Homo sapiens: one gene and its partners. The protein of the gene in region 1 purifies or fractionates together with the protein of each later gene. This does not show direct contact. Each region holds a gene or a part of one and is shown on either strand. Other genes may lie near its edges.

Region 1 (3,748 bases):
TTAACTACCCTTCTCCTTTTCTTGATTCCATGAATTTGCTTATGAATTTTCCACAGCAGTTAGAAATTGATCAGTTCCATCTCCAGTAGTTACAGACTGGGAAAGTGACATCTACCAATATATTCCTTCAATATATTTTATGGAATATATCCCATAAAAACAATACTGTGCCAAAGAATTTCTAGGTCCAGAAGCAGTCTTTTTAATAAAATTTTGCCTTTATGGAAAAAATCAAACTTTCTCATAAGGCTTCTCTGTGAATTTCAAAAGGGTCCTACATCCATGTACTCCATTTCAGCCATGAATTTCTTCTGTTCATTGCAGAATGCTTGCCACTGGTGTATGTTTACAATGTTTTCCATTGGATCTGCACAGGAAATTAATCAGGCGCCATTTGTATTGAGCATGATGTAGACAAGAACATGTCATTAATATACTCATCCTAGTTATACTGAAGAACCTAAGACATGAACAAACCTATCGAGCTCAATTGTTGAGGCCACACACTATGCTAAGTGCGGAAATGACTATAAAGACAGCAATGAGCACTTTGTTGCTCAGCCTCTCAATTTTGAGTCACCAAGAAAGGATACTTTACCTCTGCATGATTTGAACTTATATTAAGAAAACCTACTTACTGTAAAATCCCCGTGTTATGTACCTCTACAGTGTTCTTTTGTAAGAATGCTTATATAGATTTTACCAAAGAAACAATTTCAGATAAATTATCATAATACTATCTTCAAGCAACATTACTCTAGAAATTAGCTTCATCAGCTTTATTCCTGCATATTCAAGGAAATTCAGTTAAAGCGAAAACGCAAAACAGAGAGAGTATTTGAAGGCAGAACAACTAGTTCCACTTCTGCATATTAAGCAAAATTAAGCAAAAATAAAGGAAACAGGCAAAGGGAAGGAACTCAAGAGCTATTTGCAGCAGTGATCCGTTACAAGTTCTACGCGCTTCTCCTCGAGCTCCAAGAGATAAGGAGGGGAAAGGAAAGAAGGCACCACGCAGAAGCCTAAACTTACTCTTGGTACAACTTAGAATATTCACTGAATTCAGCCTAAGATGTCTGGGTTATCTGGATTCAGTAGGAATGTCTGGGAAGAAGGAGTGGCATTTGCTTTCTCCGTTTGAAACCCTGGGAGCTGTACGAGAGTACCCCAAACCCCTTGGTTATCTTGCAGAGGCGGCTCAGGGCATCGTTCCCCAAGCACACACCTGCAAAGCCGGGCGGCTCCTCCCCTCTTTCCCTCCTGTCCTCAGGGATGGACCAAAGTCCCTCCAGCGCACCGTTAGCCCGAGGGCCACCCGGCTCCCGCAGGCACTACCCAGCCCGGGGTGAAGCCGGAGCGCTCGCCGCCGTCCCGGCTCCGCTTCCCGGAGCCACACAGCGGAGGCGGCGCGCAGCTGAACACCGGCACCACCAGGATGCGCATTACAATAAAACTTGGGGGAGCAAGTCTACACTCGCGCCGACGTGAAGGCACAGCCCCTGACGCGGGCTCGAGGGCCGTCGGCCCGTCCCGCCCCTCCTCGCGGCCGAATGGCAGTAGTCCATACCTGTCCTCGGAGACGCTGATGACGCCCTCCTCTTTGGGCACGATCACGGCCATATTCACCACCTCCTGGGACCCCTCCATCCGCTGCAGCAGGATCGGCTTGCGGGTCAGAGGCTTGGGCTGGATCTCCGCCGCCATCGGAGGAGGGGGCGCGCCTGGGGCGCCGCCGCCAACCGCGCCGCGGGGCCGGGCTGAGGAGACTGCTGGAGCACGGACACAGGTTGAGACAGAGACTCTGGCTGGCCGGAGCGGAACGCCGGAAACCGGCGAGCATAGCCTGGCCGCCTCTCTCGGGAACGACTCCGCGCTCCCTGCTTCAGGCACCAAAACCGCCACGACCTGGGATGCAAGCCGGCGCCACTACAAGAGGAGGGGGCGGAGCGCCGGGGGGCGGAGCCTGTGTGGGCGGGGCCTGCCGCAGGGGGTAGCCGCTGGTGGGCGCGAGGGCGGCTCCACTTCCGGGAGGGTGGTGAAGGAGGAGGGGAAACCTGGAGCAGGAGGCGGGGATCTGGTATCCCAATGCGCGTGCGTCAGTCCCGCAAGCCCATTTTCACCCCTCCCCTCCGCGACTCCCCGGGCGCTGCAGCACCACTAGGACGCATGCGCTTTCCGTTCCTCGCGGTCTTCTCTCTGCCTTACACACCCAAGGGTTAGGCTCCTCCCTCTTTAACCTCCCGTGAACGCGCGTATACACACCCCTGGGGACGCGCTTGCCAGACGCCACGCCCCTTCGAAATTCCCTGAAAAGAGGGCGGAGGTGGGGCGGGGAAAGGAGCGCCTCAGCAAGACCGGAAAGAGAAGAGGCCTGCAGGAAGGAAAGCCGCCCAACTCGTTGGGACGTGACTTGGCATGCGCGCGGGCTACCTGGCCTAGCGGTCTTAACAATGAAGCGCGGCGGGAGGCCGCTTACTGCTCCCAACATGCACCAGGCCCAGGCTGCCGGAGGGAACCCAGTGGCCTCCTGGGAGTCGTAGTTTCTTGGAGCCTCCGCCCCCTTGTCCTGGAATGACCTATCGCCCACTTTCTGCGCTATGGGCCTGAGGAGCTCAGCGGCCTCCAGGGCCATTGGCCAAGTCAGGACCCAGACTTGCCTCTATGGGAACTGAGGGGCAGCCCCCAGCTGAGTAGGACGTCACCACTCCTAGGGTCAGACTGATGCTCGGAATAGTGGCACGGAAGGGACATGAAAAGGAGAGAATCTTTCATACAGACATCTTCAAGGGAGCTCAGAGAACATATGGGGTGTCTATCCCCTCGTTTTCTTAGATGGCTAAATTACACAGCCAAGGTTACTTTAGTGCAAAGTTAGGGCTAAACAACCCCTCCTTCCCTCCAGACTTGAACCCAGGCCCCTAGTGCTGGCTTCTTTCCATTTCCCCAGCAATCCAGCCTTTTTAGCTTGCTCCAGACACAACGGACAGAGTTACTGTAGTTACTGACTGAATGTTAGGTGCCTACCAGAAGGCCTGGCATGTGGGGTTGATCGTGAAGACTAAGCTCTGCTTTTTTATCTTGCCCAAATTCCTATCTAAGGGGTCTGGGGAGTCATGGCCTACAAAAACCATAAATTCTCATCAGATGGGTTTTGACCATGTAGGTCATGACTTACTTTCCAGTCTGACTCTGGCGTAACAAGGAAGAAAATCAAAATGTTTTACCCCAAATTATATTTCCTTGCCATGCCTTAAAATTGCCCTGCAAAGTCTCTTGTGGGAAAAATCCACATTCTATATCCCCTTTCCCCTTTGTTTTCCTTCCTTCCTTCCTACACCCAGGAGATAACCAACTAAGAGCCAGGCACCGTTTTAGGTCTGGTAAGGAACATTTTACAACCTGCTGTCTCTAAAGGCTGCTATCTAAAAGATTCCTCTGCACAATAAAACCTGGTCTCCACAATCCTTTACCTTAACCTGAACATTCCTTTCCGTTGATCCCAGGTCTTCAGATAAACTCAACCAATTGTCAACCAAAAAACGTTTAAATTTACCTATAGCCTTGAAGCCCCCGCTTTAAGTGGTCCCACTTTTCTGAACCAAACCAATGTATTTCTTAAATGTATTTGATTGATGTCTCATGCCTTCTTAAGATATATAAAACTCAGCTGTACCCCGACCACCTTGGGCACATGTTCTCAGGACCTCCTAAGGGCTATGTCACGGGCCACGGTCACTCATATTTGGCT
Region 2 (3,748 bases), on another chromosome or scaffold:
TAACTATAATGACCATGCTGCACGTTAGATCCCCAGAACTTAGTCATCTTGCATAACTGAAACTCTACATCCTTTGACCAACATCTAGGCAAATTTACAGAGGCAAAAAAATTGATTTGTGGTTGCCTAGGGATACGGTGAGGGGATTGGGAGAAAATGGGGAGTGTCTGGGAATGGGTACAGGGTTTCTTTTTGGAATGATGAAATGTTCTAAAACTGATTGTAGTGATGGATACACAACTCTGTGACTGTATACTAAATCCTATTGAATTGTACTCTTTAAAAGACTGGATTTCATGGCATTTGGATTTTATCTCTGTGATAAATAATCAATCTCATAATCCAATCAATCACCTAATCTAAGCAACCAGATCATATACACTAATATATCGTTCCAAATATGTATCAAGTTTTTCTTGAGTACTTTCCATGTGCCAGGCAGGAAGACTTGACTTCATAATCTCATCTAAGCATCACAACAACCTTGTGAAATATGTATATTATGTCCAGAAACTGAGGCTCAGGGATGTTAGGTAATCCACAGTGGCTGAGCTGTGAGTTTAACCTAGGTGCAATTCCAAACACAGCACTCCTAACGTCTATGTAATAAGGTTTCAGTTGTATAGTGTGTGTTTTCTTTCCCTAGTTAGATTAGGACTAGGAGGGCAAGGATTTTATTTTATGTTTCCTTCATAGTCTCTTCATTGCTGTACCAGCTACTACACATAGTGCTCAATAAATGCTCAATAAATACTTAATGAATGCCAAATGGAGCTGCAGCTGGTTGAAAATACCAATTCTTTCAGAACGGATTTAGATTTTAGATTCATGGGTAATATATTCATCATGGATCATTAAAAGAAGCAAGGATATTTGAGTCCATCCTTAGTCCCCAAGATGTCTTGGTGGAGCAGGGACCACACTTTCACAACCTTTGGTGCTTTCTTATGAGTAAGAATTGATTGGGTCAGATGGATTATGGATCTGACCCAATGTGATCATTCGTAGATTCTTCGGGTCCTTTTCTGTTTCCTAGTATCTCCTAGCCTAAACGGACCTACCCTGCTGCTGATGCCTCTCCCTGTTTGTCTTTCCTTGTGGCCACATCCCTCTTCTTGTTCATTTGAATAAGATATGGTGCCTACGGGAGGCAGGCATTGAAGTCCAACAGGCCAGGTTTTATCAAAGGTGGTCAACAATAATTATGGTGTGGTGTCAAACAAGTCATGCCTCTGAGCCTCAGCTTACACATCAATAAAATGGAACTAAACAAGCTTCCTCCTCCAAGATGTTGGTATTGTCAGAATTTCACATTTAATAGTTTAATATTTATAGGCAGCTGGAGACACATTATAGAGAGATTGGGGCCTATAAATCAATTTAGACTGGATTAATTATCTGTATACAGGTGGCTTGAAATCATCTTCCATTCTCCTGCTGCCTGCATTAGAAACACCCACAGCTGAGCGTGAGAGCTGAAGGGTCAGGGTCAGATGTGTAGACAAGAAAGCTAAGGAAGAAAGACTGAGAGTGAGGTGGAGACTCCCCTGCTGTGTTCCGCTTCACTCCTGACACACACACACACACACACACACACACACACACACACACGCACCCAACTCCCCCCCATCACACCCCACCTACCTTCCCCATTCCTGCCCAGAATCACTGGTCCTAACAGGGCACAGAGGTGGAAAATCTCATGGGTTCTTTGGCCAGGAAGCCTCTTATTGTCCTGTTCTGACGACCAGCGAGACAAATGGGAAAAGACTGCCCTCCCCCTTTTCTCGCTCCCCGGCACGCCAGGCTTGCTAGTGAGGATGGGACGCAGTCTCAGGCCCCACGCAATCCTTTTGCAAAGCCAAGAAGTGTGTGTGTTGTGTGTGTGTGTGTGTGTGTGTGTGTGTGTGTGTGTGTGTATTGTGTGTAGCGAGGAGGATTGGGGGTGGGATCCCATGACGTTACCGGCTCCGCCTCCTGGTGTATATAAGGGGCGCTTGGCGCGCAACGACCCCAAGCCGCAGCTTTGAAGCCTGAGCGGCCGAACTCGGCAGCTCCAACCCAACTCGGCTTAACTCCGCCTCACCGAGCCCAGTCCAAGACTCTGTGCTCCCTAGGTTTGCAACAGCTCTCTGGTAAGCGTTGGGGACCCACACGTGTGTCGGAGGGGGGACGGCGAGGGTCCGGGCGTACCTAGGATTCTCTGGCAACCATGGCATGCAGTTGCATCAACGGGGCCGTGACCTGTTGCTGGCGAGACCCCCGCCCCGGGAGTTAGGGCTCCCGTCTCCACCCCAGCTCCAAACCATTTCTAGATGGGGGCAGGAAAATCTGGGACCTGAGTCGGGGGGCATCGGGTGGAACCCTTCCTCTCTGCTGAGAGGAGAGTGCGAGCAATCTCGGGCTGCCCTGGGGCCCCTCTGGGGGCGCATCTCCAAATCTTTAGATGTCGAAGCCCCGCCTCGCTGTTGATGCTTGCAGGTCAGCCTAGCAGGGCTTGGGAGGAAGTAGGGGAACATTTGCTTACTCCCCTGGGCGACAGCTGCGCTAGTTGAGCAGTGTGGGCTTGGTGAGGAGGGATGGAATTGAGTCGGTGCTCACTTTTAATCTGCAGCGAGGTTGGTCCCCTCTCCCTCTGGGGGGTCTGGGGGCTGTGTCTGTTTGAAGCCCCGGGGGAAGCCCCTGGGTGGAGCTCTGTTTAATTCCCAAATAGCCACAGGCCAAGGAACTGACACATTAGGTTTCAAGATTCCTGGGTTGAGATTAGGATAAACCCTATCAGTTTCTGGCAAGAGAAAGAGACCTAATATTGATTGAGCACTTACTAGGCGCCAGCCACTCTACTTCAGGGGGCTTTCACGTGCCATTTCTGAAATTAGCCCTTCCAAAAACCTTGTAAGGTATTGTAATTCCTACTTGTTTATGAAGAAACTGAGGTTAGAGGTAAAGTGACTTGCCTTTGTCCCTTCCATATCCCCGTCCTCATTTCCCAATAGCTCCTTTGCTTGGTGGAGGGGGTCTTGTAATTCGCTTTCAGAGTTTAGGGATAATGAGCCCTGTCGAGGGGTTTTTGTCTTGTTTTTCACCAGATCATCTTCTTCAATTCCTGCTAGGATGCCGTGGCAAGCATTTCGCAGATTTGGTCAAAAGCTGGTACGCAGACGTACACTGGAGTCAGGCATGGCTGAGACTCGCCTTGCCAGATGCCTAAGCACCCTGGATTTAGTGGCCCTGGGTGTGGGCAGCACATTGGGTGCAGGCGTGTATGTCCTAGCTGGCGAGGTGGCCAAAGATAAAGCAGGGCCATCCATTGTGATCTGCTTTTTGGTGGCTGCCCTGTCTTCTGTGTTGGCTGGGCTGTGCTATGCGGAGTTTGGTGCCCGGGTTCCCCGTTCTGGTTCGGCATATCTCTACAGCTATGTCACTGTGGGTGAACTCTGGGCCTTCACCACTGGCTGGAACCTCATCCTCTCCTATGTCATTGGTGAGATATGGTGGGGGAGGGAGGGAACTGCACAGCCAGCAAAGGGGTTTTTGGTCAGGAAATCTGGGTGGAAGTATTCTTTATATTATTCACAGGACCTCAATCTCCCTAAATGTGCGGGTTTGCTGGGGGTCTGGGGGGGGGTGTTGAAGGTGTGGAGAAATTGCTCATTCTATCCATCTCCGTCCTGGTTTCCTTAATTAAGTGAATGGTTTTGGTTCTTAAAAAGTAATAATAGGCCAGGTGCAGTGGCTCACGCCTATA
Region 3 (3,748 bases), on another chromosome or scaffold:
CATGTATAAATTCATACATGTAGTAGTTTGTTCTTTTCTATTATTGAGTCCTTTGTATGAATATATCACAGATTGGTGGGTTTTTTTGTTTGTTTGTTTGTTTTGAGTCAGAGTCTTGCTTTTTCATCCAGGCTGGAGTGCAGTGGCTTGATCTTGGCTCACTGCAACCTCCATCTCCTGAGTTCAAGCGATTTTCCTGCCTCAGCCTCCTAAGTAGCTAGGATTACAGGAACCCGTCACCACACCTGGCTAATTTTTGTATTTTTAGTAGAGATGGTGTTCCACCATGATGGCAGGGCTAATCTCGAACTCCTGACCTCAAGTGATCTGCCCACCTCGGCCTCCCAAAGTGCTAGGATTACAGGTGTGAGCCACCGTGCCTGGCCTAAACTTTTGTTTTGTTTTTTTTTTTTTTTTTGAGATGGAGTCTCACTCTGTCATCCAGGCTGGAGTGCTGTGGCATGATCTCGGCTCACTGCAACTTCCGCCTCCCTGGTTCACATGATTCTCCTGCCTTTGCCTCCAGAGTAGATGGGATTACAGGTGCCTGCCACCATGCCTGGCTAATTTTTGTATTTTTAGTAGAGATGGGTTTCACCATGTTGGCCAGGCTGGTCTCAAACTCCTGACTTCAGGTGATCCAACCGCCTCGGCCTCCCAAAGTGCTGGGGTTGTTTCCAGTTTTTGGCTATTAAGAGTAAAGCAACATTGTTTGTTTTTTTGACTCTTAAATGCCTGTCTTATAAATGGCGCTAAGCAGGGAAAAGCTAATTATTAAATATTGTTTGACTGAAATGTGAACCACATTTTTCCCTAATTTATGTCAGAAATCACTATTTAATAATATTGTTTGTGTTTATATGTGATTTTAAAATGATCCCCACCTTAATTAAAATGACCATCCCTGAAAGTGAAGCCAAAAGGAAGGAATCCTCCTAGCCTACTCTGCCATGACTTGGGCTTTAAATGGACCTGTTTTCAATACTGGCATTCAGGTCACCTGCAATTTTTATGTTATCCAAATGTTTTATGTTTTATTGATTTTGATGGAGAATCAAAAGACATCTGTTGTGTCTAATGCATCTACATGCATCTTGACAAGGGGACTGGACATAGAGACATGTCAGGGAGCAGATACTCCAGGAGCTGGATCAGTATAGGGAAACTGTTAACGGACAGGTCTTTGTTCTCAGAGCTCCCAAGATAGTGGTGGGCCGCTCCCAAGATGGCAGCAAGCCTTTTGTTCTCTGACCTGGGGTTCTTGGCCTCACGGATTCCAAGGAATGGAACCTTGGGCCACATGGTGAGTGTTATAGCTCTATTAGAAGCCGTGGGTCATGGAAGAGAACCGTGGAACCCAGCAACTAGTGTTCAGCTGGATTAGGACGAACCCGGGCACTTAGCCATGCAGGAACAATGGCGAGCCTTTAGCCCGATTGGGAGCGGCAATGGGCGCCTTGCTATATCAGAAACGCAGCGGACACCCTGCCATATCTGGAGGGGTGGAAGTCAGCGATGGGTCTGCAACGGTGGCAAACAGCAGTGGTGGACGGTGAGCGAAAGCTCAGCTCGAGCCGTAACAAACACAGACCAGAAGAGTGTGCAGTTGCAAGATTTAATAGAGTGAAAACAGAGCTCCCATACAATGGGAGGGACCCAGACGAGGTTGCCCCTCCCGGCTCGAATGCCTGGATTTATATCCCGATCATTTTCCCTCCCCCTGTGCTCTCGGGCGATATATGATTTGACTATTTCTTTACCTCCTGCTTTTAGCCTAATTTGTATTTCAGTGAGCCCTCTTTACTACCTGATTGGTTGGGTGTGAGCTGAGTTATAAGCCCTGTATTTAAAGGTAGGTGTAGTCACCTTCCCCAGCTAGGCTTAGGAATTCTTAGTCAGCCTAGGAAATCCAGCAAGTCCTGTCTCTCAAAACTGGGTTCTTGTTGAGAGGACAGCAATAACCCCACTCACATGCGCCGAGATTAGCAGGTCTAGGCTCCTCCACCCCTATATGGGCCTAGTGGCTGGTGGCCAGATTACAAAACAAAGAGCATTTCTGATTGTTTTGCATGTGAAGAAAACAAAGTTTTATTGAGTTAGGGTCTTTGCATTCAGTTCTCTGTCTCTTCACATTCTTTTTTTTTTGAGACAGGGTCTGGCTCTGTAGCCCAGGCTGGAGTGCAGTGGTGACACGATCATAGCTCAATGCAACCCCTGCCTCCCAGGCTCAAGCCATCCCTCCCACCTTAGCCTCCCAGTAGCTGGGTCTAGGCGCATGCCACCAAACCCGGCTAATTTTTTTTCTATTTTTTGTAGAGACCAGGGCTTCACTATGTTGCCCAGGCTAGTCTCAAACTCCTGGGCTCAAGCAATCTGCCCGCCTTGGCCTCCCAAAGTACTGGGATTAGAGGCTCAAGCCACCGCTCCCAGCTGTCTCTTCACATTCTAAAATAACTTTGTAGGGAATGTTCTAAAGGGCCCTCCATAGCAAGGAAAATCAAGTGTGTGTCTTCTGCAACTTAAGCTTGTGTGCCTTTTCAGCTGCTCATTTGTAAACACTGTGTGTTTAACTTAGCTTAGCTCTTTGGGGCATAGGTCTAATAGTATGGCTTATGGGTTTCTCCAGATAGAAAAACTTTTCAGCATCTGAACTGGCAGACCCTCTGTGGAGAAGAAAGGTTTCTCAAGGTATCAGCCAGTTCCAAAGGGAGGTGGATTAGATGTTGAGAGGTTAATTGGCTATGGTCAAGGAAAATGTTTGCATCTGAGGAAATAGCTTTGGGGCAGAGATGATTTTATTATTATTATTATTATTTTTTTTGAGATGGGGTCTCGCTGTGGTGCACGGTTGGAGTGTAGTGGTGCGATCTTGGCTCACTGCAACCCCCGCCTTTCACGTGATTCTCATGCCTCAGCCTCCCGAGTAGCTGGGATTACAGGCACCCACCACCATGCCCGGCTAATTTTTTTGTATTTTTAGTAGAGACGGGGTTTCACCATGTTGGCCAGGCTGGTCCTGAACTCCTGACTTCAGGTGATTCAACCGCCTCAGCCTCCCAAAGTGCTGGGATTACAGGCATGAGCCACCATGCCCAGCCACAGAGATGATTTTATATGGCCACTTGGGCAGGGCTTCTTATAGAGAGACCTTTAGGTGGGGTTATGACCCAGGGGGTTAGCAACTGGGCAGTTTTGCCAGCGAAAGTGTAGCTTTCCAGGTAACAGGACTTTGTAGCCCAAGTTTAATTGTTGTATCACCTTCCTCCAGGAGTTGTTTGTATATAATATTTCTTTTTTTTTTTATTTTTGAAACGGGTCTTGCTCTGTCACCCAGGCTGTAGTGCAGTGGTGCGATCATGGCTCACTGCAGCCTAGACCTCCCATGCTGAAGCGAACTTCTTGCCTCAGCCTCCTGAATAGCTGGGACTGACTACAGGTGTGTGCCACTGATATGGTTTGGCTGTGACCCCACCCATAATCTCATCTTGAATTGTAATCCAGATTGTAATCCTCAATCTCATCTTGAATTGTAATCCAGACTGTAATCCTCACGTGTTTGGGGAGACACCTTGTGGGAGGTGATTAGATGTCCTTTAAAATAATCCTTAAAGAGAAACATGCTCTAGTCATATAATTTCAGGTAAAACCATTTAAACATAAAATTTTTGTTTTTATTGTCCATTCCTATGGAATTAAAAACTGACATTTCACCCCATACTCTAGCACTATTCTTCTCCTTGTTCTCTTG

What was found.
Region 2: the proteins of WDFY2 (region 1) and SLC7A3 purify together in Homo sapiens (affinity purification with mass spectrometry; 4 studies listed by BioGRID and IntAct, with this or other methods). This does not show direct contact.
Region 3: the proteins of WDFY2 (region 1) and ERCC6L purify together in Homo sapiens (affinity purification with mass spectrometry; 3 studies listed by BioGRID and IntAct, with this or other methods). This does not show direct contact.

What each region holds. Positions count from the first base shown.
Region 1 is NC_000013.11:51,582,644-51,586,391, reverse strand, and holds the start of WDFY2 (WD repeat and FYVE domain-containing protein 2), read right to left. Parts: upstream 1,931-3,748; 5' UTR 1,705-1,930; coding exon 1,568-1,704; intron 1-1,567. UniProt on the Homo sapiens protein: Acts in an adapter protein-like fashion to mediate the interaction between the kinase PRKCZ and its substrate VAMP2 and increases the PRKCZ-dependent phosphorylation of VAMP2.
Region 2 is NC_000023.11:70,929,364-70,933,111, reverse strand, and holds the start of SLC7A3 (cationic amino acid transporter 3), read left to right. Parts: upstream 1-2,015; 5' UTR 2,016-2,135; exon of another isoform or gene 2,136-3,089; 5' UTR 3,090-3,114; coding exon 3,115-3,484; intron 3,485-3,748. UniProt on the Homo sapiens protein: Uniporter that mediates the uptake of cationic L-amino acids such as L-arginine, L-lysine and L-ornithine. The transport is sodium ions- and pH-independent, moderately trans-stimulated and is mediated by passive diffusion.
Region 3 is NC_000023.11:72,211,343-72,215,090, reverse strand, and holds part of ERCC6L (DNA excision repair protein ERCC-6-like), read left to right. Parts: intron 1-3,748. UniProt on the Homo sapiens protein: DNA helicase that acts as a tension sensor that associates with catenated DNA which is stretched under tension until it is resolved during anaphase. Functions as ATP-dependent DNA translocase. Can promote Holliday junction branch migration (in vitro).